2 linked regions of the Homo sapiens genome follow. The protein of the gene in region 1 interacts with the protein of each later gene in a pairwise test. Each region holds a gene or a part of one and is shown on either strand. Other genes may lie near its edges.

Region 1 (3,867 bases):
ATATTTCTTTCATAGTTAGGCTTTATATATTACATTTTGATCTCTCAAAATCTGCAATTAAATATTAATTTTATCTTTGATGTTTTATTTTTTTCTCTTTAGAAAAGACTAAAAAAAGTCAGCCAGTGATTATTGTGTCTTGAAGGACCACAAAACATGAATACTTGACTTCATATGTTTTATAGAAAAATCATAAAATAAAACCTTAAGTTACAAAAGCAATATATTTCATTAGTTTTAATGGAATCCTTTCCTTTTTAAACACAAACAAACTTTGACAATCTGTACTTTGGTTAATTGCTGTGTTTGCATTTTCTTCCCTTATCCAGCCAATCAAAAACCCCCCAACAGGCAAGAAATATGTTAGATGCCCTTGTAATTGTCTTCTCATTTGTAAGGACACATCTCGGCGAATAGGATGCCCAAGACCCAACTGGTAAGAGATAAAGATTAATTCATTGATTCATTCATTTGTTCATTCAACAAGTATTTACTAAAGGTTCTTCAGTGCCAGGCTTTGTTCTAGAAAGAGTTTTTGTTTTCAAAGTCATTCCAGAATCTAGATTATTTTTTTGTTAAAGGAATGATAAGCTTAGTTTGAACTTAGTCATAGATATTTGTAGGATATAATATTCTTAAATGAGCAATGAATGTTTTCTTTGTGTTATGTAAGTACTTAATGCACTGTAATAAATCAATGACACATTGAACGTATTTAAAAATAATGAGGTCAGGCCAGTGGTTCATGCCTGTATTCCTAGCAATTTGGGAGGCTGAGGTGGGAGGATTGCCTGAAGCTGGTAGTTTGAGACCAAACTGAGCAACATAGTGAGACCCCATCTCTACAAAAAATTAGCCAGGTGTGACAGCATGCACCTATATTCCCAGTTACTTGGGAGACTGAGGCAGGAGTATCATTTGGGCCTAGGGATTAAAGCCTTCAATGAGCTATGACTGTGCCTCTGCACTCCAGCCTGGGCAACAGAGTGAGACCCCATCTGTTAGTCTCTCTCTTTTTTTTTTTTTTTGAGACAGAGTCTCAACGGGAAGAGTCTCAAAAGAGTTGGCTCACTGTGACCTCTACCTTCTGCCCTGAAAGCCTTCCCACTATAGCCTCCTCCTGAGTAGCTGGGACTACAAGCACACACCACCACTCCCAGGTAATATATTTTTTTTTTTTTTTTTTTTTTTTTTTTTGTAGAGACAGGGTTTCACCATATTGCCCGGGCTGTCTTGAACTCCTGGGTTCAAGTGATCCCAAAGTGCTGGGATTACAGGCATGAGCCACCATGCCTGGCCCATCTCTTAAAAAAAAAAAAGTAATCACTTAGTTTACTTTTGATATAATTAATCTTCACCTGCAAGTGTTTTAGTTATTTTTGTGTATCTCACTGTATATTATACTAATCTCTGCTGAATGTATATGTGCAATAAATTCTGGAATTATTCGCTCATGCCCAGTACCATTATGGATGTCCCCAGATACAAGTATATAAAGGCCTTACTTGTGTTTTTTTTCTGTGATCTCTCTAGCTTTTTGACCATTACATGAATCATGTACAGCCCTATCCAATGATAGACTAGAGAATAGAAATGAAAGCAGGATCCTGTTTGCTTTCTTTTCATCTCTGATTAAATACGCATCAAGGAATATCACACTGCTCAGAGAAATTTGGTTGTAACCCAGCCCTTCGGTGCCTTCATGGCACAGAGATTTTTGTTGGTATAGAATATTTTTAACTTAGTCTTCTACCAAACTCAAGTTGGCTTCCTAGATAAGGAAGGGTAACAACTGTTTTCTGATTTGAACTTACAAAAACTTGGAAATGACAGTTAAATGGTTGCCATTGATTAGGACCAATGCTATAATATATTGTTTCTATCCCAAGTACAGACTCATATTTTGCTTTTGAAAAACTGACTGTTGCTACTCTTTGTAGTTTTGCCTCCAGCTTGACATTTAATTCACTTAATTTATGAAACAAGTATAGCACATTTCATATTTTTGGCCATATGTTGCAGGTTTTGCTCTCAGTCCATTTGTGGGATAGTGAAGTTGTTTCCTTTCTCTTTTCACAGTAGACGGATAATTAACCTTGGCCCAGTAATGCTTATTTCTGAAGAACAACCAGCTCAGCCTGCATTGCCAATCCAACCAGAAGGTACAAGGGTCGTGTGTGGGCACTGTGGAAACACATTCCTGGTAAGTCACTGGACATTTGTCATTAATCTGTAAATATAGGTCATGATCTTACAGATTAGAGCACTGCTCATAGTCTTATAGTTTTGTCCAAATGCAAATTAATCAAAATATTAAAATAGAGACTTATTTAGGCAGACAATCAGAAGTGCAACTAGGATATAGAGCATCTTCTGTGAACTAGATAAAAGGTACGTCCTCTGATAAGTCCAGTTGCAAAAAGGATCCTCTCTATGTAGGCCAATGAGAAATCGTGCCCAGGCTTAGTTCCATGAGTATCTTGGCTTGGGGAGCAGCTGAGTCTTAGCCCTGCTCTCACCTGCTCAGCAGAGGTCAAAGTGCACAATCTCATGCAGTAGATTTGCTTCATGGCTTCTAGATTGAGGAAAAATTTGAATAATAATTTATCAAAAATTTTCTGACTTTTATAAATTATTCTTGGAGCAAAGGGAATTAACACTGTTACCCATAATTAGATAAAACCATTAGATAAAGAATAAGAAAGTATAAGTAATTTGATATGAGCAAAAGTTATAAAAGTTTTTGTTTTACTACTTCTAACTTAAACTTAGTTTGATTTTTTTTAAAGTTAAATTCATAATTAACTTACCCTGTCAGGAAGGATAAGGACAGGTTTTCTTTTATTGTTCAGCCCATATAGGAGACAAACATTTTCTTTAGAACTTGAATATGAAAAATATTTATCAGAGTATACACATGGGAGTCTAAACAAAACCTGCTGTCACTAAGACATGAATGAGCTTAAGAAAATATAAGTGGTTTGCTTTTTTTTATTTGTAATTTTACTTTTATTAAAGAACTTTATGTATATAGTTCTAAATGTCAAATGGGACTGCAATCTTCTCATCTAGCTGACCCCTAGTTACTGTTCCCAAAATGCTTTCAACTCTTTCAGCTACTTTATTGATAGTCACTTCTATGTGTTTATTTTTTATAATTTTTAAATTTTTATTTATTTATTCATTTATTTTTTGAGATGAAGTCTCACTCCGTCGCCCAGGCTGGAGTACAGTGGCGTGATCTCAGCTCACTGCAACCCCTGCCTCCCGGGTTCAAGCAATTCTCCTGCCACAGCCTCCCAAGTAGCTGGGATTATAGGTGCACACCACCACACCTGGCTAATTTTTGTATTTTTAGTACAGATGGGGTTACATAATGTTGGCCAGACTTCTATGTGTTTAAATTGCTTATCCTTTTTCTATTTGATTAAGCAATTTTAGACATTACCCACTAAATAGTAAACTGCAAAATGAGAACTTAGCACTTATACTGCCCTCCCACTCATATTCCTTTCCTTGCTTTCATACTCCCAGTCAAATTGCAACATTTTGTTTAATTAATACTTAGTGTTTACAATTTTTATGATTAGGTAAATTTTGTTCACAGCTGAACCAAGCAATGTGGTACATTTTTCTTGTGCATGCATTTTAACATTTTCTTGGACTTACAAATAATTGCCCCCTCCTTTGGATTTAATTTTCTATGTGTAAATCATTCATTCTTCTCATATTCTTGTGTAGAACTATAAAATACCTATTACTATAATTAATTGCATCAAGGAATCTCTTATTTAGGCTTCCTGCTACATAGTTGTCATCCTTCCCTTCACCATCATCATGAAAATTCCTTTTACCTCTTTCCTGTGT
Region 2 (3,867 bases), on another chromosome or scaffold:
CAATCCCAGGCAGTGACAATCGTGCAATGTCCCTGGAGCAGGAGTGAGATATCAGATGGACCTGTTCAGGACTGGGGGGGGTCTCACTCCCAGCTGGATCCTTCAAGCCCAGCGCAGCCCCCCAGATTCCACATGTGGGGCGGCAGGGACTCCAGGCCTGAACTATGCATAGCCAGAAGGGTCCATTGCAGGGCTGTGTAGACTGAGGCCCAGAGAGGAGGGCTGAGCAGTCCCAGAGATGCTTGGAGGGACCTCTGTGATAGCCTCGCTTGTGTTTTCCAGGCCCGAGCTGCTCACTGAGGGAGTCAAAGAGCCCATCATGGATAGTCAAGGTACCCAGCGCGGGGTCGGGAGCCATGGTGTGGGCGGGCAAGGGAGGGCCCCAGGCCTCTGCCACCAGCCCCTCCTCCTGCTGCCTCTGTCCTGCTCCCATCCTGGCCCTGGCATTCTCCCCACACCCCCACATTGGGTTTCCCCTAACGATGCCATCTTGGGTCCCAGGAACTGCCTCCTCACTTGGCTTCTCTCCCCCTGCCCTGCCCCCAGAGAGGGATTCCGGGGACCCTCTGGTGGACGAGAGCCTGAAGAGACAGGGCTTTCAAGGTAAGGTTGAGCTCACGGGGAGGTCTGTTGTCCCAGCACCAGGACATTGACCTGGTTTGGGTTTGGAGGGCCAGGCTGGAAGTGGGGAGGAGCTGGCCCCCAACTTCAGGGCCTAAGGGACCAGGCAAGCCAGGTTGGCAGCCCAGGCCCGGCTGTACCCTGCCAGCTCTGTGTTAGAGACTCCAGGGGAGAGGGGGTGCCTACAGGTGGACGGTCGGGGGAGCCCAGGAGCCTGCCTGCCCCCTCCCTGCCCCACCCCCCAGAGGTAGCTGACACGCCCACTCCTTTTTCAGCAATCAGCTGTGGTCTTAGTGCTTTGAAATCAGAATAGGAGCCAGACGCGGCACCTCACGCCTGTAATCTCAGCACTTGGGAAGGTCAAGGTGGGAGGATCGCTTGAGGCTGGGAGCTCGAGACAAGCCTGGACAACATAGAACCCGTCTCTATGTCTATTTTTAAGAAAAGAAATCAGAGGCCGAGTGCAGTGGCTCACGCCTGTAATCCCAGCACTTTGGGCGGCCGAGGCAGGTGGATCACTTGAGGCCAGGAGTTCAAGACCAGCCTGGCCAACATGGTGAAACCCCGTGTCTACCAAAAAAATACAAGAATTAGTTGGGCGAGGTGGCGTGCACCTGTGATCCCAGCTACTAGGGAGGCTAAGGCGGGAGAATCGCTTGAACCTGGGAGGCGGAGATTGCAGTGAGCCGAGATCATGCCACTGCACTCCAGCCTGGGTGACAGAGCAAGACCCTGTCTCAAAAAAAAAAGAAAGAGAGAGAGAGAGAGAGATGGTGGTCTGGGATCCCTCCAGCACATGCTGGCACTTGTCTTTGTTTGTTTGTTTGGATGGAGTTTTACTCTTGTTGCCCAGGCTGGAGTGCAATGGCGTGATCTCAGCCCACTGCAACCTCCGCTTCCCGGGTTCAAGCAATTCTCCTGCCTCAGGCTCCCAAGTAGCTGGGATTATAGGCACGTGCCACCACACCCGGCTAATTTTTGTATTTTTTAGTAGAGACGGGGTTTCACCATGTTGGACAGGCTGGTCTCGAGCTCCTGACCTCAGATGATCTGCCCACCTCAGCCTCCCAAAGTGTTGGGATTACAGGCATGAACCACTGCACCCAGCTTTTTTTTTTTTTTTTTTTTTGAGACAGAGTCTTGCTCTGTCACCCAGGCTGGAGTGCAGTGGTGCGATCTTGGCTCACTACAACCTCCACCTCCCAGGTTCAAGGGGTTCTCTTGCCTCAGCCTCCCAAGTAGCTGGGATTACAGGTACGCACCACCATGCCTGGCTAATTTTTGTATTTTTAGTAGAGATAGGGTTTCACCACATTGGCCAGGCTGGTTTCCAACTCCTGCCCTCAGGTGATCCTCCTGCCTCAGCTTCCCAAAATGCTGGGGTTACAGGCATGAGCCGCCGCGCCCGGTCACACTTGGGCGTTTTTAATGAACACTTTCTGGGTGAGGGTGTCTTGGTGGCTCATGCCTGTAATCCCAGCACTTTTGGAGGCTGAGGCAGGCAGATCACTTGAGCTTGGGGGTTCGAGGCCAGCCTGGGCAACATGGCGAAACCCCATCTCTACCAAAAACACAAAAAAGAAATTAGCCAGGTGCGGTGGTGCACGCCTGTGGTCCCAGCTACTCAGAAGGCTGAAGCAGGAGAATCGCCTGAGCCTGGGAGGTGGAGGTTCCATTGGGAGCCGCCAGGCCCATCCCCTGTGTCTGTGGGGACTGCCCATCCTCCTCCATCTGCTAGATCAGCTGGGCTTCCATTCCCTCGCTTGTCTCCAGCCCCCTAGTGACTTCATGAAGCCCCCGCCCCCTGCCTGCCAGCCCAGGGCACAGGACTCCGTACTCTATGGTGTCCCTCCCCTCCGGGGCTTATTTATTGGTTTGGTGGTTTTCAAATGTCATCAATTAACTTAATTTCCAACTCATCACTGTTGTGGCAACAGTGCATGTCCTTCTGAAAAAAAGACATCTCCATCAACATGTCGGTGCTGAAGGACCTGAGGGGCCCACTCCAAAGATCCTTTAATTGCCGGAGAAGGAGTTCCCCATAATTAGAAAATCATCTTCCTTAAAAGTCACCAAGTGCTTTTTCACTCAACAGCCCAAACCCATAATCGTTTTGCGCTTTGCAGAAAATTATGACGCGAGGCTCTCACGGATCGACATCGCCAACACACTAAGGGAGCAGGTCCAGGACCTTTTCAATAAGAAATACGGTAAGCAGTGCAGAACCCCCGGGGAGGGACACGCAGCTGCTGTGCACAGAGAAGTGGGAGGCTTCCCAGTTCCAGCCGAGGGCATTTCTGGGGAAACAATTCACCCCTTTACATGTATTTCTTGAGCATATACTACGTGCCAGGCACTGTCTCAGGCACTGGGGATATTGCTGTGAATAAAACAGACACAGTCCCTGTACTCATGAGCCTTGCAGACCAATGAGGTGAGATACACTTTCAAGAACTACACACAGAATTTAATAGACAAGGGCCCGGCACAGTGGCTCCTGCCTGTAATCCCAGCACTTTTGGAGGCTGAGGCAGGTGGATCACTTGAGCTCAGGAGTTCGAGGCCAGCCTGGGCAACATGGCAAAACCCCATCTCTACCAAAAACACAAAAAAGAAATTAGCCAGGTGCAGTGGTGCACACCTGTGGTCCCAGCTACTCAGGAAGCTGAAGCAGGAGAATCGCTTGAGCCTGCGAGGGGGAGGTTGCAGTGAGCTGAGATCGCGCCATTGCATTCCAGCCTAGGCAACAAAAGCGAAACTCCGTCTCAAAAAAAAAAAAAAAAAAATGGAGCATATGACATGGGAGCATATTGGTGTGGCTTTTTCTTTCGTTTCTTTTTTTTTTTTTTTTTTTTTTTTTTTTTTGAGACAGGGTCTCACTCTGTCACCCATGCTGGAGTACAGTGGCGTGATCATGGTTCACTACAGCCTCAAACTCCTGGGCTCAAGCAATCCTCCTGCCTCAGCCTCCCAAGTGGCTGGAACTACACCCCACTGGGCACTACCATGCCCAACTAGTTTTTAGAAATTTTTAGTAAAGACAGGGTCTTGCTGTGTTGCCCAGGCTGATCTCGAACTCTTAGACTTAAGAGATCCTCCTGCCTTGGTTCCCCAAAATGCTGGGATTACGGGCATAAGCCACCATGCTGGCCTTTTTTTTATGTTCTGATCAAACAGCTCAGATTGTAATGCCTATACCTTTCCACAGTGCTACACTACATAAGAGCTTTCTCGTACCATTCACTC

Evidence for each region.
Region 2: the proteins of PIP4P2 (region 1) and GTF2IRD1 interact in a two-hybrid assay, tested with the Homo sapiens proteins (one large-scale study listed by BioGRID).

The regions. Positions count from the first base shown.
Region 1 is NC_000008.11:91,016,726-91,020,592, reverse strand, and holds part of PIP4P2 (type 2 phosphatidylinositol 4,5-bisphosphate 4-phosphatase), read left to right. Parts: intron 1-329; coding exon 330-436; intron 437-2,079; coding exon 2,080-2,203; intron 2,204-3,867. UniProt on the Homo sapiens protein: Catalyzes the hydrolysis of phosphatidylinositol-4,5-bisphosphate (PtdIns-4,5-P2) to phosphatidylinositol-4-phosphate (PtdIns-4-P).
Region 2 is NC_000007.14:74,554,892-74,558,758, forward strand, and holds part of GTF2IRD1 (general transcription factor II-I repeat domain-containing protein 1), read left to right. Parts: intron 1-282; coding exon 283-332; intron 333-501; coding exon of another isoform or gene 502-546; coding exon 547-603; intron 604-2,747; coding exon 2,748-2,831; intron 2,832-3,867. UniProt on the Homo sapiens protein: May be a transcription regulator involved in cell-cycle progression and skeletal muscle differentiation. May repress GTF2I transcriptional functions, by preventing its nuclear residency, or by inhibiting its transcriptional activation.